2 linked regions of the Homo sapiens genome follow. The protein of the gene in region 2 purifies or fractionates together with the protein of the main gene of each other region. This does not show direct contact. Each region holds a gene or a part of one and is shown on either strand. Other genes may lie near its edges.

Evidence for each region.
Region 1: the proteins of PHTF1 (region 2) and CAPN5 purify together in Homo sapiens (affinity purification with mass spectrometry; 2 studies listed by BioGRID and IntAct, with this or other methods). This does not show direct contact.

The regions. Positions count from the first base shown.
Region 1 is NC_000011.10:77,080,302-77,095,743, reverse strand, and holds part of CAPN5 (calpain-5), read right to left. Parts: intron 10,893-15,442; coding exon of another isoform or gene 10,858-10,892; coding exon 10,693-10,857; intron 7,803-10,692; coding exon of another isoform or gene 7,683-7,802; intron 2,063-7,682; coding exon 1,931-2,062; intron 1-1,930.
Region 2 is NC_000001.11:113,742,386-113,757,827, forward strand, and holds part of PHTF1 (protein PHTF1), read right to left. Parts: intron 15,371-15,442; coding exon 15,314-15,370; intron 7,205-15,313; exon of another isoform or gene 7,121-7,204; intron 1-7,120.

The sequences.
Region 1 (15,442 bases), on a different chromosome or scaffold from region 2:
ACCAGGAACCACTTGGGCCCAAGCCCAGGGCAGGACACATAGGCTCCCACCTACAAACGGCCAGACAGATGGCCTCTCCTGGGGAGACTGGAGTCAGGCCCAGCACCACAAGGCCCTGGGAGGTCTGGGGGAGCAAGGCCGACCGTGGGGCTGCTGGGTGGTAGCTGAGTCCAACAATTTGGAAAGGAGCTCTGTTCCCAAAACTCTCCTGAGCCTTCTCTACTCCAGGTCCCTAGTGGGCTCAGCAGGGACATATACGTTGGGCCAGTTCTGCCTGTGGGGAGCTCACCTCACGGGGGAGGTGAAAGATAAACAGGCAATTGCAGGGCAAAGTGGGAGGTGGGGGGCAGCCCTACAGAATGCCCATGTGCCCCTTCAGCCCCTGACTGAGCCCTCATCTAGTGGGGGGGTGGGCTCTAAGGCAGGGGGACCTTGTTCTGAGCTCAGAGAAGGGGGTGGGAGCCTGGAAGCTGGAGAGTGAGGACTGGCCCTACACCCAGAGCACAGAACCAGGCCCCAGCCCTCTCTGGGCCTTGAGGCGTAGAATTGAAATGAGCCAACGGGTGGCTCTCGAAAGCCCTCCTGGCTCAGGTGCCCCTCGAATACCCACATCCACACGCCGCAACCATGGCCTCTGCCAAGGCCCCAGGGGCCCTACAGCAGGCAGCTGCTCCTACCCTGCAGGACTACTGGGGCTAGGCCCCAGGGATGCCCACCCTGGAGTGGCTTTGAGAGGTCACATCCCCGTTCTGCAGACTCAAGAGCAAGACACCTACCAGAGTCTCAGCCTTGCCCAAGGGCACTGCTCCCTCTGATGGCCAAGGGATACCTCAGAGGATGAGGAAAAACTCTGTCTTGCACAGGAGTACCTGTATGTTCTATGATATTAATTATCATAATGCTGGTAGGCACAGCCACCTTTGGCCAAGCACGATGCCGCACAAGGCATGTTGAGTGCAGCATCTGGTCCTATCCTCACCACTCCCCGAGAGACAGCTACTCCGATTGTCCTTATTTTGCTGATGAGTAACCTGAGGCCAGCTCCAAAGCTACCAAGTGCTGAGGCTCACTGCCAAGCCTGGGAGATGCAGATGTCCAGTGCTCCTCAGCCCCACTGCCAGCCCCTCCCAAGGGATGGCAGAAGGGCAGGGATGAGCAAGGGGCAATGACCAGAGTCCCCCTGCAGTCCCTGCCAATAATTCTTCAGGGAGCCAGGGTCTGCCTCCACTCCAGCCTCCCTGCCTCCTGTGCACGGAATCTAAGGCCCTGCTGCCAAGTGCTGGGATAGGAGGTTGGGTTGCAGGACCAGAGCCTATTCTTTCCAACCCAAACCCTTTGGCCCTGGTCCAGAACACCAGCAGCTTGGAACTGTGCTGGGATAGGAGGTTGGGTTGCAGGACCAGAGCCCATTCTTTCCCACCCAAACCCTTTGGCCCTGGTCCAGAACACCAGCAGCTTGGAACTGGGAGTCATGAAGCTGGGGATCACCAAACCACCCTTGCTGAACAACTGGGAAAAGTCAGGCCCAGAGGAGGACAGCAACCAGCTGAGTCACACAGCAGGTCTGTGTCTGTCAGGGGTCTCCTGAGCCCCATCAGTGGTGTCTGCACACTAAATGTGATGCACACAGCTTCCACATTTCACAGGTGTGTATTAATCTGCCAAGTGTCCCCAACAGTGTTGGGGGGGACACATCAGAATGACCTTGGGAGCCTGACGGATTCCCAGCACCTGCCCCTGGGGGTGCCCAGCTGAAGGGTGAGGGATGGCAATTCCGACGCTCGGCCAGTACTGGGGGCCCCCACCCCATCCCTGGCACAGGCTTTTGAAAGTCTCATCTGCCACAATCAGGTTCCGCCTGTCTGGCAGTGAGGGCCACAGGCTGCGTTCACACTCCCCAGCACCCTGCCCACTCTGCCCGAGGCCTCACCTTTTGCCACAGCGACTCCCGGGAGGCAAGTGACGAGCAGGCTGCCACAAACCAGCAGTTGCCCACCTGGCCCTGGTGCAGGTCGTGGGAGCTGATGCCATCCACAAAGAGGCGGGGGTCCTCGCAGATGCCCTGCGGAGAAGGCGAGGAGAGAGCGTGAGGGGCGGAGGAGCATGCGGATGCCCCCCATGGCAGGAGACATGACAGACACAGACGTGACAGACACAGACTTGCTGTGTGATCATCAGCATGGTGATTCACCTGCCTCCCACCACAGACTTGGGGCCCCATAGGGCCCATCTGCTCCCCGCTTGCCCCCCACCCCGCGGTCCTGCCTGGGATGCCCTCTCCCCTTCCTGGCCAGAGAGTGCTCTTCCGCTAAAGGTTTGCTGATGAAGAACCTGTGGGAAGACGTCAGAGCGCTGGACCCGGGGCACTGCCTTCCTCCTACCCGCTGCGCCCCTCCCTAACCAGCAAGAGCTCCATTCCCTTCCTTCTCTAGCACCAGCAGCCTGAGTGCCCACCCCCGCCAGCCCACAGGGGTACAGCAGGTTCAAGTGGGGTGGGGGTGCGGGCATGGGACAAACACCCATATCCCAGCTGGGGAGCACAAAGCGAGGGGCCAGTGGGGAGCGGTGGGCCAGGCCCCGCATGGCACTTGCCTCGCATAATCTCATCAGGTCTTCACGCCACCCAAGGAGCGAGGAGTTGTCATTCCATTGTATGGGCGAGGAATGGAGGTTCAGAGATGGACTGTGACTTGTCAAAGGCACACAGCAAGCAAATGCTCAAGTGGAGCAAAAACTCCTTTTTTTCCTTTTTTCTTTCTTTTTTTCTTTAGAGACAGTCTCGCTCTTTTGCCCAGGCTGGAGTGCATGGAATGCAGTAGTGCAACCTCAGCTCACTGCAACCTCCAGCTCCTGGGTTCAAGCAATTCTCCTGCCTCACCTTCCTGAGTAGCTGGGATTACAGGCACCCACCACCACGCCCAGCTAATTTTTATATTTTTAGTAGAGACAGGGTTTCTCCATGTTGGCCAGGCTGGTCTCAAACTCCTGATCTGCTGGCCTCGGCCTCCCAAAGTGCTGGAATTACAGGCATAAGCCACTGCGCCCAGCCTCCATTTTTATTTTCTACAGAGACTGGTGGGCACGGCCCAAGAGGCTGCTCCATGAGACGCAGCCAGGGAATCCGGCCAGGGCAGCCGCTGACCCGGGAATGATCCATGAGCAACTGGCTGCTCTCAGGCTCAGCCCTTCCTAATTTCTGGAAGCCCCTTGCTCTGCCTGCCAAGAGAGAGGCAGCCCAGGGGGGCTCCAGTACCAGGTGCCCTCTGCACCTGACCCTGCCCAAGGAGCTCTGGCCTGGGCTTTCCACCTCTTCTTGCTGTGGGGGTATTTTCCTTAAAAGCCCCCTGAGGCAGTGCTGTGAAAGGGAAAAGCATGGGCTTTGGCTTCAGACTGGAGACTGAATTCCAGCTCCTCAATCGGCAATCTGGCGAGCTCTCTGAGCCTCGGCTTTCTGATTTATATAATAGAAACAACAATTTCTTTATGTTGTTGGATTTTGGGGTTTTTTGTTTTTGTTTTTGTCTTTTTGAGGCATGGTCTCGTCTGTCACCCAAACTGGAGTGCAGTCACAATCACAGCTCACTGCAGCCTCAACCTCCTAGGCTCAAGCGATCCTCTGGCCTAAGCCTCACGAATAGCTGGGACCGTAGGCCCACACACCACACTCAGCTAACTCTTAAATTTTTTGTAGAGATGAGGTCTCACTATGTTGCCCAGGCTGGTCTCAAACTCCTGAGCTCAAGCAATCTTCCCGCCTCAGCCTCCCAAAGTGCTGGGATGACAGGCTTGAGCCAATGTGCATGGCCAATAATTTCTACTTTGCGAGGAGGAATCAGTGTATGTAAAGTATCAAGCCCAGGGCCTGACCCAAAGCGAATGAAAGTCTCCTTCAATTTTCAGGTGCTAGGAAGCTATGCCCAGACCTCTATGGGTGGCTCCAGCACCAAGAGATGCAACCAGGAAGGGTCAGCTCACCCTGTGTTCCCTCAGCTGTAATCATCCCTCCCCAAGGCCTGAGCTGGGGGTGGGGCCTGGCCTGATCCCTAGCCCTGGCCCAGGGAACAGAGCAGGCCCCTCTTCCTCTCCCATCGCCTCACTGAGCTGAGGAAGCCACTGCTCCCCAGTGGCTGTGGGTATGGTGGAGGGTGGGGACAGGCAAACACTGAGACATGCCTTTCATGTACCAGGCATCCTGCTGACACCACAATCCATCCTCACCAAGGCACTGAGAAGTGGGCAATATCCCCTTTTACAGATAAGGAAACTGAGGCCCAGGGAGGTGTAATACCATGTCCCCGCCACACAGCATGGGCAGATGGCAGCAGCCCTCTGCCTGCCTCCACTCCAGCAGGCGCTCCTGAGCTAGTTCCATCCCAAGAGCTTCTGCGGTCCTACCACAGGCGGCCAGCAGAGGGTGGCAGAGGCAGGAAGACCGAATTTGAATGTCTGCTCCCTGCTGTGCAACTTTGGGCCTCACCTGTGCAGAGGAGATAAATGGTCATCCCAGCAGGGCTGTGTAGGGACTCTACAGATCGTGGAGCAGAGCAGTTGCAAGGGAGAATGGGGAAGAGGGCTCCTAGTTCCCACCAAGATGGGGACCCTGCTGTCCCCTCTGCCCGGAAGAACCAGAGTTTTAGAGGGTCAGAGAAAGGGCTAGAATTCCCCCAAGGGCATGAGCAGCTCCTGAGACCTGGCCCCTCCTTCCAGTTGGCACTACAGGGTGCACCACGGCCAACCTGCACGGCGGCTTCTGCAGAGCACAGGTCTAGGAAACCCAGTGAGGCCGCCTGGTCTCATCCATCCCCAACGGCACCCCGTCAGGAAGCACAGGCAGGAAGAAGGGACTTTCCCTCTCCTCCCCGCTGCCCTCCTGTCTTCCCTCCCAGCCCTGGACCACACCCCACATCCAGCCCATCCTCTGACCCAGAGGGAGCTATGACTTAGCATCTGTTCCCTGAGGCCAGGAGGGCAGGCAAGACCGGGAAGGGAGAGGGGCTTCCATATACGGAGGACCCCAGCCACATCATGCCATGGAAAGAGAAACAGCTACCACCTGGCATCACCAGGGTTTACAGCAGGAAGTGACTCAGGTGTCCCTCCACTTCAGATCCTCCCAGCCAGTGTCCTAAGACAGACACACAACTGCCCCATCCCAGAGAGGAGGAGGCTGAGCCCAGGACAGCGCAGTGATGTCCAAGGTGACAAGGCAAGTAAGTGGACGGATCCGATGGGATGCCCTAGGTCTGCTGGGCTCCCAACCAGGGTCTCCCAACACTAAGCACCACAGCTGGGGCAGACCCGAGGTGCAGATCCAACCAGATCTGGGCCCCAGATCAGGGCTCTGGCCCCAGACACTTCTCCAGTCCTTGAGAGACAGACCGAGCTTGGGAGTCACGATTCCCAGATTCCATCACCCTGACTTGCTGTGGCAGAGCAGGAACCTGGGGGCAATCGTGCAGCCTGGGAAGGAGCAGACAGAGCGGAAGGCAGCCAGGCATGTTCCCACTGCCAGGAGAGGCTCAGGGTCACCAGCTCTAACCAACAGAAACCACCTGAGGTTGGTGGCACCTGGAGTCTGCTCTGGAATCCAGGGGCCACCTTGGGGCACCTGTAAAGGAACAATAATAGAAATATCTCACAATGACTGGGCACCTGCTATGTGGCAGGCACTGTGCAAAACAACCCTGTGAGATGGGCACTGTTGGCATCCCCTTTTTACGGATGAGGAAACCAAGGCACAGAAAGGTTAAGTCACTTGCCCAGGGCCACACAAGAAGAGGTGAAATGAGATTCAAATTCAGGCAGTCTGGCTGCAGTCTCCAGGTAGACTAGGTTTTTTGTTTGTTTGTTTGTTTTTGTTTGTTTTTTTTAGATGGGAGTCTTGCCCTGTCGCCCAGGCTGGAATGCAATGGTGCGATCTTGGCTCACTGCAACCTTCGCCTCCTGGGTTCAAACGATTCTCCTGCCTTAGCCTCTAGAGTAGCTGGGACTACAGGCACCTGCCACCAACACCCAGCTAATTTTTCTATTTTTAGTAGAGACAGGGTTTCACTATGTTGGCCAGGCTGGTCTCAGGTGGGCTAGGTTTTATGGGTGACAAAGCCATCCTTCCTTCACCTGTCTCCCTGCACCTGTCCTAACCCAGCTTAGGGGGTGTCTCACTAGATAGCAATGAGACCAAGGGTTTGGGGAAGCCCAGGCCCTCACCTCTGCCACCATGGGGCCAGGCTTCTCAAGCCTAGTGTTTGTCCTTCCACTTTTCCTGGGCCACTGGCTGGACATAGGTCATAGAGTGAGTCAGGGAAGGTCTCTGCCCACAGGCAGGGATCTTGAGAAGGAGCCAGGCCCTGACCCCCCATGTGAGCAGAGCTGTGACAGCAGGAGCCAGAGAGAAAACAGAGGAGGCTGCCTGGAGGCAGTGATGCTGGCAGAGCAGGCATGGAGAGTGCTGGTAAGCAGGGAGGTTCAGGAGGGAAATGGGGACCCGAAGTGTCCTGAGGCAGACACTGCCTCCGAAATGGTCCTCGGGTGCCAGGGGCCCTTTATCTGGTGCCAGCCACCTGTGCTCCCTTCCATCCCTGTCCACACTCTCTAGGTTTCCTTAGGGTCCCCACCACCAGCCTGTGAGCTCCTAAGCAGGGCCCAGGCCTGACTTTGCCCACTTCTAGGCTTAGCAAAGCTTGGCAGGTTCCACTGGGGCTACAGACAGGTCCCTGGGAGGGAGGGGGGACAAAGTGGTGCACAGGATTGGGCTGTACAGGGGCTACCCCTGAGGGCTGGGGGTTGACCATTTCTCCAGGCAACACAGCTCTAGGACAGCATTCTGCACCTGCAGTCACCGCTCCCCTGCTCAGCCCATCCCAGCCTGTTAGACCAACTCTACCTGACAGGCCACAGCCCAGCCCACCTCCCTTCTCCCTTCGTGGCACAACAAGAAATTCAGGTTTCTATTCCTGGTGTACAAGGCAAGGCAAGGCAGCAGACTGGATCCATGGCACCTGGGCTATATCTGCAGAGGCTCCCTCCACATCCGTCCTCCTCCCCCACTCTTTGTCCATCCAGCTTCACCCTAGTCACCACCCTCCTGGAATCTAGGATCACAGAATGAATGAACTAGACAGTGGGAAACAGGTCTGGGAAGGACACGGGACTTCCATCTGGGACTGGAAAGGGAGTTGTAGCCTACAGCCCATCCCCTCTGCAGAAGACTTGCCCTCCCCCAGCCCTACCTCCTTCTCCTCCATGGCAGTCCGCACCCTTCAAGGCCTCTGAAAGCTCTCCCTGACCCCACTGAACCCCATCTCTGAGCACATGCCCAGAAGGGGGTCATTCCTGGGCAGTTCGGCTGGGTGTGCCCCCGCTGCCAGGCCTTGCTGCAAACTGACTGTTCTGTGGCACGAAAAGGCCTTATGTTCAGGGAGCCGAGGAGTAGGGCCATCTCCAGGAAATGGCTTGATGGGCAAGAGTCCCCGGGACTGGGCTGAGGCTGGGGCCCCCGAGACTGCACTAGGGGAATTCTGCAGGTTCCAAAACCAGTGTCTGTTCATTAGTCCCCCTCCCCCACCCCACCTTGTCCCCTGTGCATTCCACCAAAGGACCTCCAGGCTCATACCCAGATGTGGGAGAGACAGCATGCTGGATGAGGGGATGTTGCCCCCACAGGGTGACAGGAGGCCGCCTACCAGGTCCCGGGCCCTGAGCGAGGAGGACGGACACCCTGAGCTCCCAGGCCTGGGGACATTCTCCATTCTCCGTGCATCTCCCCAGCCAGGCCTGTGAGGGGCCAGCGAATGGCCACTGTACTGGAAAGAACAAAAACATAGCGAGCCTGTGGGTGAAGGGTGTGGGCTGAAGGCAGGTGCCCAGGTCGGCACCCAAGAGGACAAGGCCTGGTCCCACCTGCAGAGTCAATAGGAGATGGGATGTCCCAACCAAGGTGGCTCTAGGTCCCCAACAAAAAGTTGCCAAGGAGAAGACGAGCAAGAGAGGGGAACCAGTTTGTCACCTGCCTCCCATGTGTATGACACCACAGATACCTCAAGTCATTTCGGTTTCCAGAAACTGTGACCAGCAAGAATTATCCTTCCCCAATTACAGATGAGGAAACTGAGGCCCAAGCAGGAGTGACTTGTTCAAGGTCACACTTCTAGTAAGGTAGGGCCAAGGCTGCAGCCAAGTTCACTGTGGCTCAAAAACTAGCCTCTGCATTCCATTTGAGAGGCAGCGAGGCTGGGAGGCTGGCTGAGGAGACCCTCTAAGAACAGAGCAGCCACTATAAGGACCAACTCAGAGAAGGAGCTGGAGGGGATGGACGGGCATGCAGCACGACTTCTCATTTGTAAACAGGCGGTCACAGGTAAGACTCCATCGAAACAAGGCTGCCTGAGGCCAAAGTTCCCTCTCACTGGCAAGCAGCTGGGCGTTAATGATAACCCACTGGGCTGGGCCCGCCAAGCAAGCTGAGCCAAGCCTGCTTGACTTCCTGCTCCACAAACCTCCCATCCCGTTAGTGGGGCAGGGGCTGCCTGTCCTGCAGGCTTGTGGCTAGCCAGTAGGCAGTGCCTACACACATGGTTTAGGAAATCCAGGCAGTGCCGTGGACCATCCACCCCAGCCTGGTCTGAGTCCCCATCACTGCTGCCCCTTGGGCCCCACTCACACAGCTCTCTGAACACCAGCCACCATACGCTCTCTGTCACCTGCCCCCACATCCAGGGCAGGGCAGCTCTGCGTGTCTAGAAAGGGCAGGGCACCAAGTGAGCCAGCGAGGAAGGCAACGAGAGGAGGAGGTGTGGCATGGCTCCTGAACCCACAAGGAAAGGGGCTCAGAAAGGGCAGCTGACTCCCCTGGGTCACGCAGCAGGAGAGTACCAAGCGGGCCAACCTGGCGTCTCCTCCTCTCACCGCAGCAAGCCCAGCCTGCTCCCGCCAGGCCTCACCAGCCTCTTTTCGGAGCCACGGACCTAAAATGTCTGGGCAATGGCCAGAGGGCAGGAGGGAGTCAGGACGGGGGTAGCCAGGGGATGGAGTGGGAGGAGGGCGAAGAGCTCGAGTGCCCAGCCCTCCTCCCCACAGCCAAGGCCTCACAAAGGCCCTTTGAGGCCAAGGCCTCCCTCCCCACCTACTTGACAAAGGAAGAGAGGAAGGCGTGGGAGAGGGGGCCCAAGAGGCAGAACTCTTGTGGCCAGGCCAGGAGGCTCCTGGGCCTTCCAGAGAGTCAGTACAGGGCCAGAGATTCTGTTACAGCTCTTGGGACTGAGGTCAAGGGCACCAGGGGCCCTTTATCTGGTGCCAGGAAGGTGGGGTGCAGGGAGGCAGGACTCTTCAACTACCCCTGCTAGCAGCTCATGGGTGATCTAGGACACGCACCTTCCTCTCTTGGCCTCAGTTTCTCTGCCACTCAAGAGTCCCAGTCCAAGGACATCTACGGGGTATTTTCAGTCAGAAGGGACTCGAGATCATAGCCTGGGAGGGAAACTAGAAAACTACATTTCATTTTCCCAAAAAGCCCAGGGGATCAGGAGGAACTTTGGAAAATGCAAATCTGACCCTGTTACAGGCTGCTGAAAGCCTTTGCCTTCGCGGGACCTCACTACTCACAGAGCAAGGTCGAGCATCTTGGCCCCAGATCTGCCACCCCAGGCATGGCTCTCCACAGGCCCACATGAGCCTGAGGGGCTCCCACCTGTGAGTTTCTATTCCCTCTGCCTTTTCCCACCTGGCCCTTTGGGCAAAAACCTCATCACCCTTCACCTCCAAGACACCTCCTCTGATTACTGGGCTGCGGGAGTCACAGCCTCCTCCCAGCCTGGAGCATCCTTGAGACAGCAGCATGGTCTCCCGCATTGTGAGGGGACGACCCTCAGTGTCACTAGCACAGCCCTGGAGGCCAGGGAGAGTAACCTCCTGCAGCCTCCCCTCCACCCAGGCCACCAGGGACCCCATTCTGCAGGACCCACAGACAAGCAGCGAACCCCTCCCCAGCCCACCCTCACACCCAGGAATCGGGGTTCAAGGGGATGAAATCACACCAGGAGGCCAAACATTTCTGTGTAACACACTCTAGCCTCAGGGACCAAAAGGAGTGGTCGGAGAGACGCCACCTGTTCATCATTATCAGTATCCATGGTCCCGTACTGGCTGCCAGGCTGTGAGTGGAATTTTGCATGCATTACCTCTTTTAATTCTCACAACCACTCTATGAGGTAGGTACTACTATCTTTTTACAATTATTATTATTATTGATTAATCATCATAATAAATACTTTTCATTTCTACCACAAATGACTATTTCAAAATCATGATGATAACAATCAGGAAAGTAAATTCCTTACATTTGGATGTCAATCTACATTTTATCAAAAATGGTCATATCCACATCACCCCATTTTTATTCCAAAAATGACCCTCAGCGGGGCTGAGGTTACTGCCCCATTTTTCCTGTGAGGAAGTGGAGGCCCTGAGAGGGTGAAGGCCTGGCTGGGCCTCAACCAATCCAGTGGTGGCCACAGGATTACAGCCCATTCTCCAAGCTCCCCATCCGGATCAAATCCCACCGTTTCAGCACCCTCACTTTCTCAGCAGCCTGGGGCCAGGGATGCCTCCTCCCACCACCCCGATGTCCCTGCAGGCCCAGCCTTGTGGGTGGGCCTGGGCCCGCTCACCCAGCTCCAGCTGGGACCAGACACTGACCTTGGGTCGCTTCCACCTGACGGCGGGCCCCGGCGTGCCCTTATAGTAGAGTGAGTCGTCAGTGGCGGGGAAGAGGGGGTCCTCGAAGAGCACCTTCCTGCGCCGGCAGTCCCGCCTCAGGGCTGAGTAGTTCTGGTCCTCATAGGGCTTCACACACGAGAACATGGTGGCTGCTGCCCCAGGGAGGGGAGGGGGAACACCTGGACAGGAAGGCAAGAAGACGGTCACTCACAGAGTCCCTGGGTCCCTGATGTGCCCTGTGAAGCGGACATCATCAGCCCCATGGCACAGGCACGGAAGGCTCAGCGAGGCGTGGAGCCTACCCAAGGTCACACAGCTGGTATACAGCAGAGTGGGACAGACACCGACCGGCCTGACTCCATAGACTGGATTCTCTCGTTTCTGAAGCTCAGAGGCGATACCAGGCCCACAGGCCACACAGAGCTCAGGCCTGGCCCACACCGCACCTACCTCCCTGCCTTCCTTTGTTTGACCAGCCTTCCCTACACCTCCTCAGACGGAATCAGACCAGTGGCCAGCCCTGCCAGCTCCCTGGCTGGTGTGTCTCCCACAGGAAAGCAGCGTGTGCCTCTGGGTTTCCCTCCCCACCTCTAGAGAGTGGCACATTTCTGCCTGGTGTGGGAAAACCTTGCCCCAGGTACCCCTCTCAGCATCATTCATTCATTCTCTCCGGTCCTCCCCGCACCATGCTGCCTTCCTCACAGCATCTTGGGAATAGGCGTCTCTAATTCTGTAGAGAGCAGGCCCATGGCTCCTTAACCCTCCCTCCATTCCCCAGGGGCCCAGGTGGGCCCAGCCAAGCACCCTGAACTTTGCACCAATGTGCTGACCAAGTGCAAGGGACACAGACTGGACCAACATGGTCAGGGAAGGCCTCTGGGAGTGGAGGGCAGGGCAGGGCAAGGAACAGCGGCTGGCAGGGCCTGCATATCAGGTGCGCTGAGAGATGCTCGGACGGCCAAGCACCTGAGTGACCACCCCATTTATGATCCACGCCCCCATCCCTCAAACTCCATCTGGGCTGCGGTGCAGCTCCACAGTCCCCGATCTACTCTTCCTGGGGCCTGCCCAGGGTAACAGTGCAATCCTTTTGGGGTAAAGGCCACAATTTCCAGCCCAGCCCTGAGGGAAACCAAGGCAAGGCAGGCTGGCTGTGGGAGTGATATCTGAGATCAAGACTGGTGTGAGTGCCAGCCCCAGTGGTACCACCCTCCTGCTGGGTGACGTTGAACTGGTCATGTGAACTCTCTGAGCCCGTTTTCTCATCTCAGTGATGGGAATTACACAGTGCTGCTGCACCTCCTGGAAGGAGTCAACCCATTAACTGAAGGCTGAGGAGCCCGCCAAGCATGCCAGTGGGAAGAGGAGTGAGGGGGAAGGGGCCAAGACACCCAGTGGTCCCAAGAGACGCCCCATTTCCCTGGCCAGAGGTGCATGTGTACTGCCTGCCAACAGTGCCGGTGGGCACACGGCTGCCAGCTTTCACAAAATACAACTGCGGCTCAGTGAGGTGAGGTGACCTGCCCAAGCTCCCCTGGAAACCTGGTGTCCGGACGGGAACCCAGATCCTCTGACTTTAGTGCCACCGCCTTGGCTGTATGACCCTGCCGCTCTCACTTAGGGTCTCCCCACACACCGTGGCTGAGCTGGAGCCTCACTGGGGCCTCATGTGGAGGGAAAGAGGGAAGGGAGAGACAGGAAAGGAAAGAGGCGAGCGCGGGCAGTGAGCATGGGCACAGATGGACAGCAGGGAGGGCAAGGGGGCCATTGTCCCCCCACCTGCCAAGGGAGCTGAGAGCAGTTGTCCCCTGCTCTGCACCCAAGCCACTTCACCTTCTGCCCCCATATCCATACTGGGCCTGCTGGAGTGCTGCTGTGTGACCTCAGGCCAACCACTTAACTTCTCTGGCTGCCCCTCTGCCCACGGAGGCCAGCAGCCCTGCCCCCTCCCACCCATTCTCCCTGCCTTGGAGGTCTGAGGGAGAGAGGGGAGGAGCTCACAGAGCCAGCTTCCGGGCTTCAGGCTTCTGGCAGAGTCACCGAGGAGCAGCATTAGCACCACGGGTTTCCGGCAGGGTCAGTTCAGGAAGCAATTTAGGCTACAAGAATTAGATCAGAGAAGCTGAAAGCAGGAGCCCAGAAATCAGCTCTTGCAATTCCAGTGTTTCTGAGCCTAGAGGGTCCAGAGAGGGAGAGGAAGCTCGCCCAGGGCACACAGCCAGGCTGGTGGAGAAAGAGGGTCTGGCTGCTCTCCAGGCTAGGAAGGGGCCAACGCTGCTGGGAGGGTCCACTCCTGGGGAGGATGGAAGGGAGGTGGAGGCCATAAAGGGAGAGCTCGGCTGGGCCAGGGGCTGCACAGGGCCAGGCCTGGCTGGCTGAGGGCCTGATACCGTTGCCCCATCCCTCCAGCCTCACCTGCCTGCCAGGCTAACCTTGGCCTACTTATGTGAGGTTCTTCTGGCCCCGGCCCTTGCACAGACTGCCCCTCTGCACCCTCCATCTGCCCCAAGGTCACCTCCCACTGTATCTATGGGGCCAACACCCCGACAGGGTCAGGTCTCCTCTGCTAGCCCCAGGCAGAGCACTGAAGGCCACGGATAGACCAGGAGGCAGGCAAGCTGCTCCACCCAGGCCTTTTCTTTCTGAGCCTGAGCTTAGGCCCGTAGCACTTCCTGTCTCCCTGGTGTTTTTAGCTGTTTGGGCCGAGCAGGACCCCTGGGTGGGGTTCAGGACCACCTGAGCTTCCCAGCTGCCCTGTGTGCCTGCCCTCTTCCCTCCTCCTGCCAGTCTCATCCCCACCATTCTCCACCCTGGGCTGAAGCTCTGGGGCTCGGAGCTCCTCGCAGCTCCCACAAGACTGTTCCCTCAGGGCCTCTGCACACACTGTTCCTCTGCCATCCTGGTGCCCCTGGGACAGCACCTGTTAACACTGTATCCCATCTGCACATGACTTGTCTGCCTCCCCAGCCTACCCTGTGCCCCTCCAGGGGAGGGGCTGTGTCCAGCTCCTCTCTCTATCCCAGGGTCCAATGTGGGGCTCCAGGGATTGAGGAGTTATGTTGCATGAACCAACAAAGGTGAGTGCAGGAGGAATTCCTTCAAGAAGAGAAAAAGGCTCAGAGAGTGGCGGAGGCTCCCAAGGGGAATCAGCTTTCCACATCACAGACGCCAGCACTCAGGTCTGCTGCAGCAGGGCCCACCCCTTCACCCTGGGGAAGGCCTGGCTCTCCTCTCCTCCCCTCCCTGACAGCTGGGTGCCAGCCGGTGCCCACATCCCCACTATCCAGACTGTAGCCCTAGCACATTCTGCTGCGGCCCAGCCCTCCTCCAGCTCCTGAGCCTCGACCCAGGCCCCCGCTGTCCTGAGCAGGCCGCATTACCTCACTGGTCTGCATGGTCCTTGTCTGGAAGAGACAATGTGCCAGGGCCTCTGGGCCACTGTGAGGAACAAACAAGACCCCACCATGCAGAGCAGCACTCTGTATCCTTTCATGCTCTGTGCCCTGAGGACTGACAGTCTCAGGCAGTCGACATCTGGGCTTCACCCACGATGTGTCCAGACCCCCGCCAGGTATGGGGGGGCTACCACAACTTGGGGTTCCTGTCGGAGTTGGTCTAGTGTAGCCAACAGACATAAGGCCAAATGAAGTATGTGTCATTCAGAGGTTCCAGCAAGAGGAAAGCAGGGAAGCCTCCACACAGGCCTGGCCACAGAGGCAGGAGAGAAAGGCCATTCCAGGCAAAGGGAACAGTTCACGCAAAGGCTCAGAGGTATGAAAGACATCTTTATTACCACCTCAGGGCACCCCCTAAAATGAGCACAGTGCTAACCTGGGCCCTGCTTTGAGAAGCCTAGGATACGGAGTCTGGAGGCTTGAGATCTGCATAAGAGGCTGCAGACTCTGGACAAGCTCATTGATGTTCCCATCTACAAAATGGCTTAGCTGGCCATCATCTCCAGGGAAGGCTCACTGGTATCAGCCCTCCTCCTCCTGTGGCCAGGGCAGCGGTGAGTCAGACCCAGCCTGCACAGTGAGGCCTCTGTGGACCAAGAGTGGAAGTTCTGAGTTGGGTCAGAATGAGGGGGCTGGGGTGCTCACCAGGGAGCTTCAGGAACCCAGTCTTCTGGCAGGTCAGTCAGATCTGAGTTTGCATCCCAACTGCATCATTTAGCTGCTGTGTGTCCTTGGGCAAGGTGGGAACCCCTCTGAGCTGCTGTCAATCAGCAAGCCTCCTCTGAGCCCTACTGGGTTCCAGCCTCTAAGGTGACAGATGACAGAAAGAAAGTGGCATCTGTTCCTAGGCCTGCCTTAGGGAAGCTCAGTCTATCCTCACCTGGGACATGGTTGGTACTCCTCTTCCAGGAGGCTGTGTGGCCTAGTCTGCTGTTCCCTGGACCTGCTGGAGGTAGCGGGGACAGCCTGGCTGTGTACAGGATGGAATAAGGCCTCATCTTCCAGCGGGCTGATACCTGTGAGCCTTCCCTGGACCACCTAAGCCATTTTGTAGATGGGAACACCAAGGAATTTGTCCTTGAGGCAGAAGCCAAGGCCAGGCTCCAGAGCTGTGTGGAGGGGCAAGTCACCTACCTCTCTGAGCCTCTGAGAGATGGGGTCATGGAGCCAGCATCAGCCCCAGGGGAATAATAAGAACGAAGGACACAGCTGAGCCCAAGCCCAGCAGCAAGAGGGCCTCAAAGCCACCACGGGCCTCAAAGCCACAAAGGACC
Region 2 (15,442 bases):
GGCCAAGGCAGGAGGATCACCTGAGGTCAGGAGTTTAAGACCACCCTGGCCAACATGGTGAAACCCCCGTCTCTACTAAAAATACAAAATTAGCCAGGCGTGGTGGTGGGCACCTGTAATCCCAGCTACTCAGGAGGCTGAGGCAGGATCACTTGAGCCCGGGAGGCTGAGGTTGCAGTGAGCCAAGATCGCGCCATTGCACTCCAGCCTAGGCGACAAGAGTGAAACTCTGTCTCAATAAAGAAAAAAAAAAGATAAAAAATGGTACACCTGTATAGGGCACTTATCATGAATAGTGCTCTCAGGATTGGGAGTTGCTCTGAGTGAGTCAGTGAGTGAGTGGTAAATGAAAGTGAAAGCCTAGGACACTGCTGTAGTACACTATTGTAGACTTTATAAACACCATAAACATAGGCTACACATTTTTTAAAACCTTCCTTTCTACAATAATAACTTTTTTTTCTCTGGGACAGAGTCTTGCTCTGTTGCCCATGATATAGTGCAATGGCACGATCACAGCTCACCACAATCTCATCCTCCTGGGCTCAAGCAATCCTCCTACCTCAGCCTCCCAAGGAGTTTTTTGTTGTTGTTGTTGTTGTTGTTTTTGTAGAGAAGGGGTCTTGCTTTGTCACCCAGGCTGGTCTCAAACTCCTGGTCTCAAGTGATCCTCCTGCTGTGTCCTCTCAAAGTGCTAGAATTACAGGCATGAGCCACCTCACCCAGTCTGTTCTATGATAACTTAACCTTAGCTTACTGTAATGTTTTTACTTTATAAGCTTTATAATTTTTTTAACTTTTTTACTCTTTTGTAATAACAGTTTAAAAACACACATTTTCTTTATATCTTCATAAGCTTTTTTTTTTCTTACTTTTTAAATAAAAACTAAGACACACACAGCCAAGGCCTACATAGGGTCAGGATCATCAATATCATTGTCTCCCACCTCCATATCTTGTCCTACTGTAGGGTCTTCAGGGGCAATAACACACAGGGAGCTGTCATCTCCTATGATCACAATGCCTTCTTCTGGAATACCTCCTGAAGGACCTACCTGAGACTGTTTTACAGTTAACTGATTTTTTTTTAATAAATAGAAGGAGTCCACTCTAAAATTAAACAATTCAAAGTATAGTATAGTAAATATATAAACCAGTAATATAGTCATTTATTATCATTATCAAGTGTTAGATACCGTACATAACTGTATGCTATACTTTTTATGACTGACAGTGCATTTGGTTTGTTTACTCCAGCATCACTCCAAACACATGAGTAATGTGTCGTGCTATGACTTTAGGATGGCTACAAAATCACTAGGCAATAGGAATTTTTCAGCTCCATTATAATCTTATGGGACCATTGTCGTATATGAGGTCCATTGATGACAGAAACATCATTATGTGGCACATGACTGTACTTAAGTTAACTTGACTCATTTAATCCTCACAAATGTCCTATGAGATTGGTACCTTTATTATCCTCACTTTACGGATAAGGCAACCAAGGCAGAGATTCCAACCCTTTCATTCTCATTCCAAAGTCTGTGCTCTAACCACTACACTATCCTGCCTTTCGCTATATGACACAAAATGCATCCCTAATCAAAGTAGAGAGAGGTTTTGTTTAAATCAAACAAGACTGCTTAACTTTGAGAGGTTCAATGGGCATTATGAGTGGATTTCCTTACTGGCCACAACCTCTACCTCAGCAGCCCAGGAAAAGATTGTAGGACAGAATCAGCATAATCACTAGTTGCCAGAGTAGTGGTCTGGAAATTCTCTGCAGATCCCCAGCTGTAGGCTGTACGCAGCCCTCTCTACTGTCTGCCCCCAACATAACTGTGCAACATCATCACAAGCTCAGAACCACTTGACAAATGAAGTCCCCACTTTTTGGAAGAGGAACAAAAACACTGGAGGTATTGATGCAATATAATTGGACTTTGTATTAAACAAGGAATAAAAAACAAGTGAAACCCTGTGAGAAATCTCTATTTCCTAGGGTGCTGAAATTTTCTATTTTATTACAATCAAAAGAATTGAACTATTTATACAGTCTGGTGCAGAGAGGGAAGTTACCCCTGATTTGGGGCATATGGTGAACAACAAAACAATTACAAGGCAAGTATAGCACTACAGGAACATCCATAAAGGACACCTTATTCACATTTAAGAAGTCCAAGAAAGATTTCCACAAAGAAAAATAGTATCTAACCTGATACCTGAAGAATGTATAAGAACTTGTAAAGTTGCACATGTGATATAGCAAAATGAGGAATCAAGAAACACATATGATCATGCCTGCAATCCCAGCACTTTGGGAGGCTGAGGCAGGCAGATTCCCTGACCTCAGGGCGACCAGCCTGGGCAATATGGTAAAACCCTGTCTCTTATACTAAAATGCCAAAAATTAGCCGGGAGTAGCTGCTATGAGCCTGTAGTCCCAGCTACTCAGGAGGCTGAGGCAGGAGAATTCCTTGAATCAGGGAGGTGGAAGCTGCAGGGAGACAAGATCAAGCCACTGCACTCTAGCCTGGGTGACAGAGCAAGACTCTGTCTCGAAAGAAGGGAATGGAAGGGAAGGGGAGGGGAGTTGGGGAGGGGAGGGGAAGGGAGGGCAGGGCAGGAGAGGGCAAGGCAGGGCAGGGCAGGGCAGGGCAGGGCAAGAAAGAAAGAAAAGCATGAGAGGACCCAGGAATAAGAGATAGCATGGTAAAAACTAAAGTAAGTTTGAGAAGGCCTAAAGCACAGAATGGAAGTGAAAAGAGGTCAAGACATGGGTGAGAGAGGTAAACTTGTGAGATGAGAAGAAGCCATAATGTGAAAACTATAACCATGCTAGGAGTATGATTTTATTGTAAGGGTACTAGGAAGTCAGGAAACAGTTTTAAGTATGAGAAAAATAATCAAATTTGTGTTAAAACAGAAACCAAAAAACAACAACCTGGCTCTGCTATAAAGAACAGATGGAGGGTAAAGAGAGATAGGAAGCAAGAGAAAGCAGTTAGAAAGTTAAAAAACCTACCCCAGTAATCTAATCAGGAGTGGACAAAATTTTTCTATAAAGAGCCAGATGGCATTTTAGGCTTTATGGACTATATCAGGGGTCTCCAACCCCCAGGGCATGGAATAGTGGTACGTGGCCTGTTAGGAACCAGGTTGCACAGCAGGAGGTGAGGGGCAGGTGAGAGAACAAGGGAAGCTTTATCTGTATTTACATCCACTCCCCACTGCTCAAATTACCACCTCAGCCCTACCTCCTGTCAGATGAGTGGCGGCATTAGATTCTCACAGGAGTGCAAACCCCACTGTGACCTGCACATTCGAGGGATCTAGGTTGCATGCTCCTTATGAGAATCTAATGCCTGATGATCTGTCACTGTCTCCCATCACCCCCAGATGGGACTGTCTAGTTGCAGAAAAACAAGCTAAGGGCTCCCACTGATTCTACCTTATGGTGAGCTGTACAATTATTTCATTATATATTATAAGGTAATAATAGAAATAAAGTGTACAATAATTGTAATGTGCTTGAATCATTGTAAAACCATCCCCCCACACCAGTCCATGGAAAAACTGTCTTCCATGAAACTGGTCTCTGGTGCCAAAAAGGTTGGGGACTGCTGGACTATACAATCTCTGTCACAACCACTCAGCCACTGTAGCACTAAAGCAGACACAGACATTGAATATAAATATGTAAAGCACTAAACCTGGCTGTGTTTCAGCTAGATTTGCACATAAGCAATAGTTTGCCAACCAGATGAGTAGACAATAGGTTAGACCAGGTAATTAGAAGCGTGAACTGGGAAGAGTACTCATATTCAAAAGATATTTAGCAGGTATCATCCAGAAGTATTGGTAACTGAAAATGTGAGATTAGTGTGAAGGTGAAGAACTCTAAACCCTGACTTCAGTACTTTAGCAATTCACTGAATAGGAAAGGTAAGAAAATGAAAAGTATTGGGTCATGGGAGGAAGGTCACATTCAGCTCACATTCCACTGGCCAAGCAAATCCCCTGACTAAGGTGGAAGTCTGTGGGGCCAGGAAGAATTCTTCTCTTATAGGAAGGCACTGCAACTCACATGACAGTAAGTGCAGCCATATAATCTTCTTACAGGTAAGAATAATTACAGGTAGTGAATAATTAGGAAAATTACTATAATATACAGTTCAGTCCATCTGACTCTAAATTTCTTGCCTAAATGCTAAGGAGATTTGTTGGTTTTGGCACCGGTATAAATAAAGCATATTGGTATAGCCAATATACGTAAATACTCACATACCTCTAAATCTACCTATCGCATATGGAAATATATGTATATCCTATTACTCAGGTAACATCATTTAATGTATTATTTGGTTTTGGAGGAAAAATGTTGTAAAATTAAATCTTTATTTGTACTAAAATAATACTCATATTACAAGGTTAATAAAAAATAACATTCCAGTCTCACCCTTCCTTACCCTTGATTCATACATCCTAGCTATTTCTTCTCTTTACTTCTAAAACAAAAAATGTTTACAGTGCTTTCATCAATTTCAGATGTTATCCATTCATTTCTTACTGTTGAAGATGAGGAAATAACTCTTATTTAGCCTTTCTATGCCTCAATTCCTTCACCTATAAAAAAGGGAAGATAATAGCACATACCTCATAAGATTATCATGAGGATCAATTGTGTGTGTTGCTTAAAACAATGCAAGACATACTACACACTATTAATGATTACAGCATCACCAAACACGCACGCCCTCCTGAACTATAGTTTTTTCCAATAGAGTTTTATCACAAATTTTTGTTACATCAATGTTTAGAGGGTTATAATTACATAAATATTGTTCACAGCTAAGCCAAGTAGTGAACTATTATATTTTCCTCTCACAAATTTTTTGCTTGTCCTAGAACTGTAATTGCCTCATTTTTTAATGCACTTAATCTTCTATTACTAATTCATCTTTAAACTCCCTCTGTTACATATCTGCTTCCAATATGCTCGAACACAACATATATCAGTTTAGTTTTCCCCCTTCAAGAGTTCTATATCAATTTTCTGTCCTCATACTCCATTCTGGACTGGTTGTTTTCTAGGTCAGATATAAGGTATCATCCTGAGACATTTGCAATTATCCTGGAATTCCTTTTACTTTGCTGTGTTGGCTGTCCTGTTTTCTGACACTATGAATTCCTTTCTGGCTTATTCATGGATTATAATACAGTACATGTCCTCCCACAGCTTTCTGAGAGAGGGAGTATGGGATATGAATTTTGAGACTCTAAGTTCAAAATATATCAGTGGTGCCTTTGCACTTGATTAATAATTAGGCTGGGCATAAAACTTCAGGTTGAAAATCACTTTCTCTCATGTGCCATTGTCCCTCACCTTCCACTGAACATTCCATTATCTTTTAGCTTCCAAATGAGCTAGAAGTTGCTGCTGAGGGGCAGTATCTCTGACTCCCAATTTTTGTCTACATGATCCGTTTTGATCCTTCACTCTACTCCATGCTTAACCCAAGCTCTAATTCTAAATGTTCTGAAATTTCATGATAATGTTTCTCAGTGCTGATGACTCAAAAGATCCTTTTATTTTCCTTTTTCTTTTGAGACAGAATCTCGCTTGTCGCCCAGGCTAGAGTGCAGTGTTGTATTCACGGCTCTCTGCACCTTTGAACTCCCAGGCTCAAAGGACCCTTTCACCTCAGCCGTCTGAGTAGCTGCGACTACAGGCACACACCACTACACCCAGCTGATTTTTAAATTTTATTGTAGAGATAGGATCTCACTTTGTTGCCCAGGCTGGTCTCAAACTCCTGAGTTCAAGGGATCCTCTTGCCTCAGCCTCCCAAAGTGCTAGGATTACAGGCGTGAGCCACCATGCCCAACGAAAAGATCCTTTTAATCTGGAAATACATACACAGTACTGCATTTCTGGGGCAATTTTTAAAATTATTTATTAATTTCTTCTTCTCCATGTATTTCCTTTTTCTGGAACATCTATTAGTTGGATATTACATTTCCTGCATGAATTGCACTCACTTTGCTATTTTCTTTTTTGTTGTTCATTTTTATACTACTTTTCTGGGAAATGGTCTCAAATTTATCTTCTAACTTTTCCACTGAATTTATTTTAATTTTTATTTATTTATGTGTTTATTTTTGAGACAGGGTCCCACTCTGTCACCCAGGCTGGAGTGCAGTGGTGCAATCACGGCTCACTGCAGCTTCGACTTCCCAGGCTCAGATGATCTCCCACCTCGGCCTCCTAAGTAGCTGGGACTACAGGCATGCAACGCCAAGCCCAGCTAATTTTTTTGTATTTTTTGTAAAGACAGGGTATCACCATGTTGCCCAAGCTAATCTTGAACTCCTGGGCTCAAGCGATCAGCCTCGGCCTCCCAAAGTGCTGAGATTACAGGCGTGAGCCACTGTACCCAGCCACCCCTGAATTTATTCTGATTATTTTTATTTTCTAGTCTTCTCACTTTCTAATCTATAGTCTATTTTTTAAGCATTCTTAATTTTTAAATTGACAGATAATATTCTATGTATTCAGTGTGTACAACATATTCTGAAGTGGATATACACTGTAGAATGACTAAATTAATATATACATTACCTCACATGGTTATTATTTGTGTGGTGAGAACACTTAATATCCACTCTCTTAGCATTTTTCAAGAATACAACATACTAACTATAGTCACCAATGTTATACAATAGATGTCCTGAAGATATCTCAGTCTTTTTATAGTATCCAGTTCTTTAAAGGTAGTAATTATATCTTTAAAAACACTGTTTTTATGATTCCTGCATTGCTTCTTTTCTCTTTTCTTCTTTTTCTTTAGGTCTTAAATATTTGATGATCTTTAATTATCCATTTATAATTAACAGTCACTAACACACTGAATGCAAGCTCAGTGTGCAATGCGTGAAGCATTTTGAATAGTGGACCTCACTATAGAGGCGTGGCCAGTCATTTCACTTTTCAGTATCCTTAGGTTCTCTTTGGTTACTCAGTTTTGACGAAAAGAAATTCCAGTCTTCTGTTTGCAGATTATAAATCTGACGACCAGACTTTCACTTAATCCCCATTATTAGTGCAGCATCTCACCAGACTCTGATTTGTTTCTGGTCTTCCAGAATCCAGAACTTCTCTGGCTCAGCCTCTCCAGAGAGCAAGCTTCAACCCGGTCTTCTGTCAGAGGAAGATAAGGGTAACTATGTGGCTACATGGAATAAGGAAGATCTGGGGGTAGATCTATTATCCCTTATACACATGTTCAAACAATCCTGTCTTTAGTTCTTTCTCACTCCTACAGATTATACCTGATACATCTAATTCCTGAGTCTTTCAGAAGTTAATTACAGGGGTTTTACTTGTTTCCTATTGGCTTTCCCTATTGCAGGCACTTAAGAGTTTTACTTCTTTCATTTTCCAACCTTCGAAATTGTATTGATAGCTCTCATTTACTGTAGTCTCTTCTTCCATTCTTTAAGTCCTTGCAGGCTGCCATGATTTTTTCTTATCTGTTGTACTTTTAAAGAGGTTTCAGGAGAGATTAGTGCATGTATTTGAACTACCATTTTTTGGGTTTTGTTTTGTTTTTGTTTTTTTTTCAGGACAGGGTCTTGCTCTGTCACCCCGTCTAGAGTGCAGTGGCACAATCATAGCACACCACAGCCTCAAACTCCTGGGCTCAGGCGATCCCCCCCAACCAGCTTCCCCAGTATCTGGGACTACAGGCACATGCCCACCACACCCAGCTAATTTTTTTATCTTTTTGTAGAGCTATGTTGCCCAGGCTGGTCCCAAACTCCCGGCCTCGAGCAAAAACCTCGGCTTCCCAGAGTGCTGGGATTATAGGCGTGAGCGACCACGCATGGCCTCAAACTGTCATCTTTAATGAGGAGTGTCAGTGTCATCTATCATATGGCCACCATCCTGCTTAAATAAAACATTATAAATACAGCTGAAGTAGTCTCTGTGCTTCTGATTAGCCTTTTTTATTCTCTAAATACAAAACCATGCTATCTTCAAACAGTGATTTTTGTTCACTCTAATATTAATTTTTAAAAATAAAACACACAAAAAAGAAAAGATAATATTAATTAATATTAATTAGAATGTTTTGCTCATCTTAGCAAATGTATCTCAAACAGTATGCTAAAGAGTAGTAAAAGGGGCCAGGCGTGGTGGCTCACGCCTGTAATCCCAGCACTTTGGGAGGCCAAGGCAGGCAGATCATGAAATCAAGAGATCGAGCCATCCTGGCCAACATGGTGAAACCCCACCTCTACCAAAAATACAAAAATTAGCTGGGCATGGTGGCGTGCGCCTGTAATCCCAGCCACTCGGGAGGCTGAGGCAGGAGAATCACTTGAACCTGGGAGGCGGAAGTTGCTGTGAGCACTGCACTCCAGCCTGGGCAACAGAGCAGGACTCTGTCTCCAAAAAAAAAAAAAAAAGATTAGTAAAAGGGGAGATTCTTATTTTAGGCTTATTTTGGAGGACTAAGTTACACTCCATCACTGAAAATAATATTAGACATTAGATTTAATATATTCTCTCAATTAAAAAATTTTAGGGCTGGGTGTGGTGGCTTACATCTGTAATCCCAGCACTTTGGGAGGCCAGGGAGGGAGAACTGCTTAAGCCCAGGAGTTCAAGACCAGCCTAGGCAATGTGGTGAGACCTTGTCTCTACAAAATATAAAATATTTTTTAAAAATTTAGAAAACAATTTTAATTGTGAATATGTATACATTTACATTTTTGGTGTACTATATTATGATTTTTCCTACTTTTACTATTGGTATAATTTTTAAAGTAGCTTTATTGAGGTATAATTTACATACTATTAAACTAAACTATTTTTACAGATTTAGTAAATAATTTAGATTTTTAGTAAATTTGTAGAGTTGTGCAATCATTATCACACTCAAGTTTTAGAACATTTCCATCACCTCAAAAAGTTCCTTTCTGCCTGTTTGCAGGAAAGCCCTGTTCCCCTCAATCCATAGGCAACTTTTGATCTGTTTTCTATTTCTATAGATTTCTAGAAATTTCATATAAACAATCACACAATATGTTGTACTTAGCATGACATTTTTTATGTTCATCCATGATGCAGTATGTATTAACAGTTTTTATTGCTGAATTGTATTTCATTGTATGACTATAACACATTTGTTTATACCAATTGATTCACCAGTTGATGGACACGTGGGTTTTTCCTACTTCTGGCTATTAAGAATAGTGCTGCTATGAACATTTGCATGTATTTATGTTTTCACTTCTCTTGGATAGAAAATGTTAAATATAGTAGATACCCTAAATATAGGTAGATACCCTAGGAGTGGAAATGTTGGGTCATGTGAGAAGTACATATTTAACATTTTTAAAACCACCAAACTATTTTCCATTTTCCATGCCCAACAGCAGTGTAGAAGAGTAGAAGAGTTGTAGTTCCTCCATCACCTTGCCAACATTTGGTATTGTCAATCTTTTTAATTTTGTTCTAACAGATGTATTATAAATGTAGTAATGTAAATCTTCCAACACTATTCTTTTTAAATTTGTTTTGAATATTCTACATCCTTTGTATTACATACATATATTTGAGAATTAGCTCATCAATCTCTACCAAAAACAAACTTCTGCTGGAATTTTGAAGGGATTACATTGAATATATAGATACATTTGGAGAAAACTGACATTTTAACAATATTGAATCTTCCAGATCATGAACATGAAATGCTATTCCATTTATTTAGACCTTCTTTAATTTCTCTAAGCAATGTTTTATAGTTTTCCATGTATGAATCTTACACTTTTTATGTCATTCCTAAGTGTTTTATTCTTTGTTGCTATTATAAAATTGTTTTCTTAATTTTATTTTTGAATTATTCATTGTTGGTATATAGAAATACAACTGATTTTTGTGTACTGATCTTGTATTTGAAGACCTTGCCACATTCATTTGTTACTGTAATTTTTTTTTTTTTTTTTTTTTTTTTTTTTTTTGAGACGGAGTCTCGTTCTGTCGTCCAGGCTGGAGTGCAGTGGCGCGATCTTGGCTCACTGCAAGCTCTGCCTCCCCGGGTTCACGCCATTCTCCTGTCTCAGCCTCCCCAGTAGCCTGCAACCACGCCTGGCTAATTTTTGTATTTTTAGTAGAGATGGGGTTTCACCATGTTAGCCAGGATGGTCTCGATCTCCTGACCTCGTGATCCACCCGCCTTGGCCTCCCAAAGTGCTGGGATTACAGGCGTGAGCCACTGCGCCCAGCCTACTGTCATTTTTTATATATATTCTTAGGATTTTCTAAATATGGGATTATGCTGTCATGAGTAAAGGCAGTTTTCATATTCCTTTCCATCTCAATGCCTTTCATCTCTTTTCCTTTGCTTATTACATTGGCTGGGACTCCCAGTACAATGTTAAATAAAAATAGTAAGAGCAGATATCCCTGCTTTGTTCCTGATTTTAGGGGAAAACATTCAGTCTTAACCACTAAGTGTGAAGTTTGTTGCAGGCTTTTCCTAGACAACCTTTACTATGTTGAAGAAGTTCCCCTAAGAACCTAGTTTATTATTAATAGGCATTGAATTTTGTTAAATGCTCTTTCTGTATTTACTGAGAAGATCATATGATTGTCCTTTATCCTATTAATATGGCATATTACATTACTTTGTTTTCAAATTAATGCATTCCCAGGATAACTCCCACTTGGTCATAGTAGATAAGCCATTTTATGTGTTGTAGAATTGGTTTTGTTAATATCTTGTTAAAGATTTTCACACATACATTCATAACGAATGTTCTTATGATGTCTTTGTCTGGTTTAGGTTTCAGGGTAATACTAGTCTCATAGAATGAGCTGAGAAGTATATTTCCTTCTCTATTTTCTGAAAAAGTTTGTGTAGAATTAGTGTATTTGTTCTTGACCTAATTAACTGCTACTCATGCTTCAGATCTCATTTTAATCAATTCCTTAGCAAAAGCTTATCTGACCTTCTTAATTAGGTTCTTCTTTTTTTTTTTTTATTTTTGAGACGGAGTCTCGCTTTTGTTGCCCAGGCTGGAGTGCAATGCATGATCTCAGCTCACTGCAACCTCTGCCTCCCACACTCAAACGATTCTCCTGCCTCAGCCCCCTGAGTAGGTGGGACTACAGGTGCGTGTCACCATGCCCAGCTAATTTTTGTATTTTTAGCAGAGAAGGGGTTTCACCATGTTGCCCAGGCTAGTCTTGAACTCCTGAGCTCATGCAATCTGCCTGCCTCGGCCTCCCTGCTAGGATTACAGGCATCAGCCACCGTGCCCAGCCTTTTTTTTTTTTTTAAAGGCAGGGTCTCTGTCATCTTGACCTCCAGGCTTAAGCAATCCTCTCACCTCAGTCTCCTGAGTAGCTGGGACCACAGGCAGATGCCATCATGGCCAGCTAACTTATTTTTTGTAGAGACAGAGTCTCCCTATGTTGCCCGGGCTAGTGTCAAATCCCTGGCCTCAAACGATCCTCCCACTTTGGCCTCCCAAAGTGCTAGGATTACAGGCATGAGCCACCATGCCCAGCAACTAGGCTCATTTATTTCCCTTATTATAAGTATAGTAGCTTGTAAACAGACCTCTTCTCAGTATTTGCCACTAAGTAATTTGCATTTATTAGAAGGATTCTTTTTATTATTCTCAACCACTTTGTCATAAATTCCATGAAAATAAAAATATTGAATATGGCTGGGCAGAGCGTCTCATGCCTATAATCTCGGCACTTTGAGAGGACAAGGTGGAAGCACTGCTTGAGCTCAGGAATTCGAGACCAGCCTGGACAACATGGCAAGACCTTGTCTCTACAAAAAATTTAAAAATTATCCAAACCTGTTGGTGCATGCCTGTGGTCCCAGTTACTCAGGAGGCTAAGGTGGGAGAATCACTTGAGCCCAGGAGATTGAGGCTGCAGTGAGCTGTGTTCATGCCACTGCACTCCAACTTGGGCAACAGGGCCAGACCCTGTCTCAAAAAAAAAAAAAATGATTGAATGTTTTTACTTACCATTATGTAGGCATAGCTAGTGTCTGCCACATTGTAGGTAAGCAGTCAACAAATATTTGTTAAATAAATACGTAATGGATGCTTTCATTTTATTTTTGGTATTTCTTTCCCTGTTTTACTTTGGTTGATTACATTTTCTTTCTCTAGATTCTTCAATATTAATATGATTCATTGTAAACCTTCCTAGTCAAACTAGACATTTTTTGTTAATATAGACATTGAGAATAATAAGTACTACTCTGGAAATATTCCATAGATTTTATTATAATGTCTATATTTTTATTTCTATCTTTCAAAAACACAGATATGATGTGACTCCTCTACTCAAAAACCATTAAAACCTTTCAATTTTCTACAGAATAGTATCTAAAGTTCTTAGTAAAGCAGTCAAGTAACCTTCAAATAGATTTATGGCCTATCACTCTATCTATGTACCTTATTCTCCAATCATATTGGGCTACTTACTTGCTCTTCCTCTAAACAAGTCTTATACTTCTGTTTGTTAATATTTTTCTCTTGTGCTCAGCACCCAACAAAATGCCTTAAACATTGTAGTTCAATAAATGCTTATTGAAGAGTTCATACCATTTTTCATGACCCAAGTTAAGATTTTTAAAATTTATCTTTCATAATTCTGAATTATACTTTTAAATATATAATTTTAAATTATATAACAGTACTGTGATATGATGTTAATATTTTTATTTTAAAATTTTTTTTGCTTATTTGTTCTTTTATTTTTTGTTTTTATTTTTTGTTTTCAAAAAATTGTATTTGTGTTCATGTATTTTTAAATTTAGCATTAATTTTTTTGTATGCTATACTTTGGTCATTTTTTAAGACTTAAGCATATTAAAAAGATATCTGGGCTTTTCTCCCATCACTATCAGACTGTGAAACCCATGAAGGCAACAATCACATCTATCTTTTTCACTGTATTCTCAGCACCTAGTACAAGAGTGGCACATTAGCTGAGTAATTTTTTTTTCAGCTTTCTACTATCACACTGAAAGCTCAGTAAATGTTTATAGTTATTTTACATTTCATTCTTCCCACCGCCGCTAAATTTAAAAGCATACATTAAGGCGTGGTTAGGTAGATTACCCTATGAGAGAACGAGTAAAAAATATGCATGATGGATAGGGTTCAATTAACTATAGCAACAGACAGAGTTCCTAGTATGAATCAAGATGTTCTAAGAGTAGGAAACAAACACACTTCCTACCCTTAGGCCTATGAACACACATAGGTTAACAAATAACTTTGATATCATGCACTAAAAGGAAGGTATGTATTAAATGACATGGAAAAGAGTGAAGGAAATCAGGCAGGGCGCGGTGGCTCATGCCTCATGCCTATAATCCCAGCACTTTGGGAGGCTGAGGCAGGTGGATCACGAGGTCAGGAGATCGAGACCATCCTGGCTAACATGGTGAAACCCCGTCTCTACTAAAAAAAAAAAGTACAAAAAATTAGCTGGGCATGGTGGCGGGCCCCTGTAGTCCCAACTACTCGGGAGGCTGAGGCAGGAGAATGGTGTGAACCCAGGAGGCGGAGCTGGCAGTGAGCCGAGATCGCTCCACTGCACTCCAACCAGGGTGACAGAGCGAGACTCTGTCTCAAAAAAAAAAAAAAAAAGGGTGAAGGAAATCTTTAAATTGGCTAGGGGAAGAAGGTTAGATAACAAGGCTAGAGATCACAAAACAAGATCAAACTCCACTTCTATGCTGTTTCCATTACACCATACTTACTATCAGTGATGTTTAGCAGCTCACAAAAAAATAACAGGACAGGCTTTAGAGAATCACAAAATAAAATCTGGAGACTTATTCATCCTAACCCCATCTCCCACTAATATAAATAATCAAGGACTATACCAAATTGTGAAAAGTTAGTCGGCTACTTGTTGTTCAAGTAGCTTTCTATTGATTGGCCTATTTAACAGAACAGATAATATTAAGTTGTATTCACCCAGTTTTTTTAAGTATTAATGAAGGGTCTGCTGCAATACTTTTTGAAAGGTAATGCAAAAACAAGAATCAGCTGGCATTTATCAGCACTTTGCAAGGAAGTGAGGCCCTGAATCCATAAGATTTAAGTAAGTATTAAAGTCGCAGAGAGTTATATTCTTTTGAGGGCCAAGGATGGTTCTTTAGGCTTTTCCACATCTCAAGACTATCCAATTACATTTGGTTACCAAGCAACCATTCCATGATGAATTTGTACCAGCATCCCCAAATGGCTTAACCCCACAACTCTGACTTTGGAATATCAGAAGATAATTTAACCCTCTCCTCCCCTATTATAAGTTAATAAACTGGCATTCTGAATTATATAACAGTTTTTGGTCACTTGGTTAGTATAAAATAAGAATCCTCTCAGTTCTAAGAGCTGTGTAGAAAAAAGTTTAAGAACCTGAAAAACTTAAAACCATACTCTAGGCCGGGCGCGGTGGCTCACGCCTGTAATCCCAGCACTTTGGGAGTCGGAGGTGAGCAGATCACAAGGTCAGGAGATCGAGACCATCCTGGCTAACACAGTGAAACCCCGTCTCTACTAAAAATACAAAAAATTAGCCGGGCGTGGTGGTGGGCGCCTGTAGTCCCAGCTACTCTGGAGGTTGAGGCAGGAAAATGGCGTGAACCCAGGAGGCGGAGCTTGCAGTGGGCCAAGATCACGCCACTGCACTCCAGCCTGGACGACAGAGTGAGACTCTGTCTCAAAAACAAAACAAAACAAAAAAACAAACAAAAACACATACTCTAAGCCAGTGATTGAATAAAATGGGGGACCATAGGCTGGATTCAGGCCACAAATGGATTTTATTTGGCTTGCAAAGGAGGAGGAGGAAGAGAAGGAAGAGTCTCTTAAAAATCCGACACAAAATGCACAATATATTTCATATAAAAATGTGTATTTCCAGCTTCTCTTGAAAAATCTGAAACTCTGGCAATATTTGGACCTGCACTGCCAAGTGGTAAAAACTAGCCAGAGCTAAGTAACCCCAGCCCTATTTATATGGGACATTTGCTCTCTAATTCATCATAGAACAACTCACTCCTTTCTGTTTTCCTGATAGTGAGGCCAAAAATCAAGTGTCACTTCTCATTATGCTTGCACTGCTTTTCTTATAACCTTCAAAGATTAAAGAATGCCATACTGGTAGTTAAATGCAGAGTTTACCAGGTAAGTACAATTCCACTCTTCATATTAATGCAGTGAAACATAGGCGGAATCAAAGAAATCAATTTACCTTAATCTGAGTCTGTTCGATTGACTTTTCCCATATCTGCTGATCGTAGGCTCCAATCTGAAAGAGGGAGTAGTCTATTAGTTAAACGATGCAAAGGAAATCCTTACATTATTAAGTCAAGCCTCATAA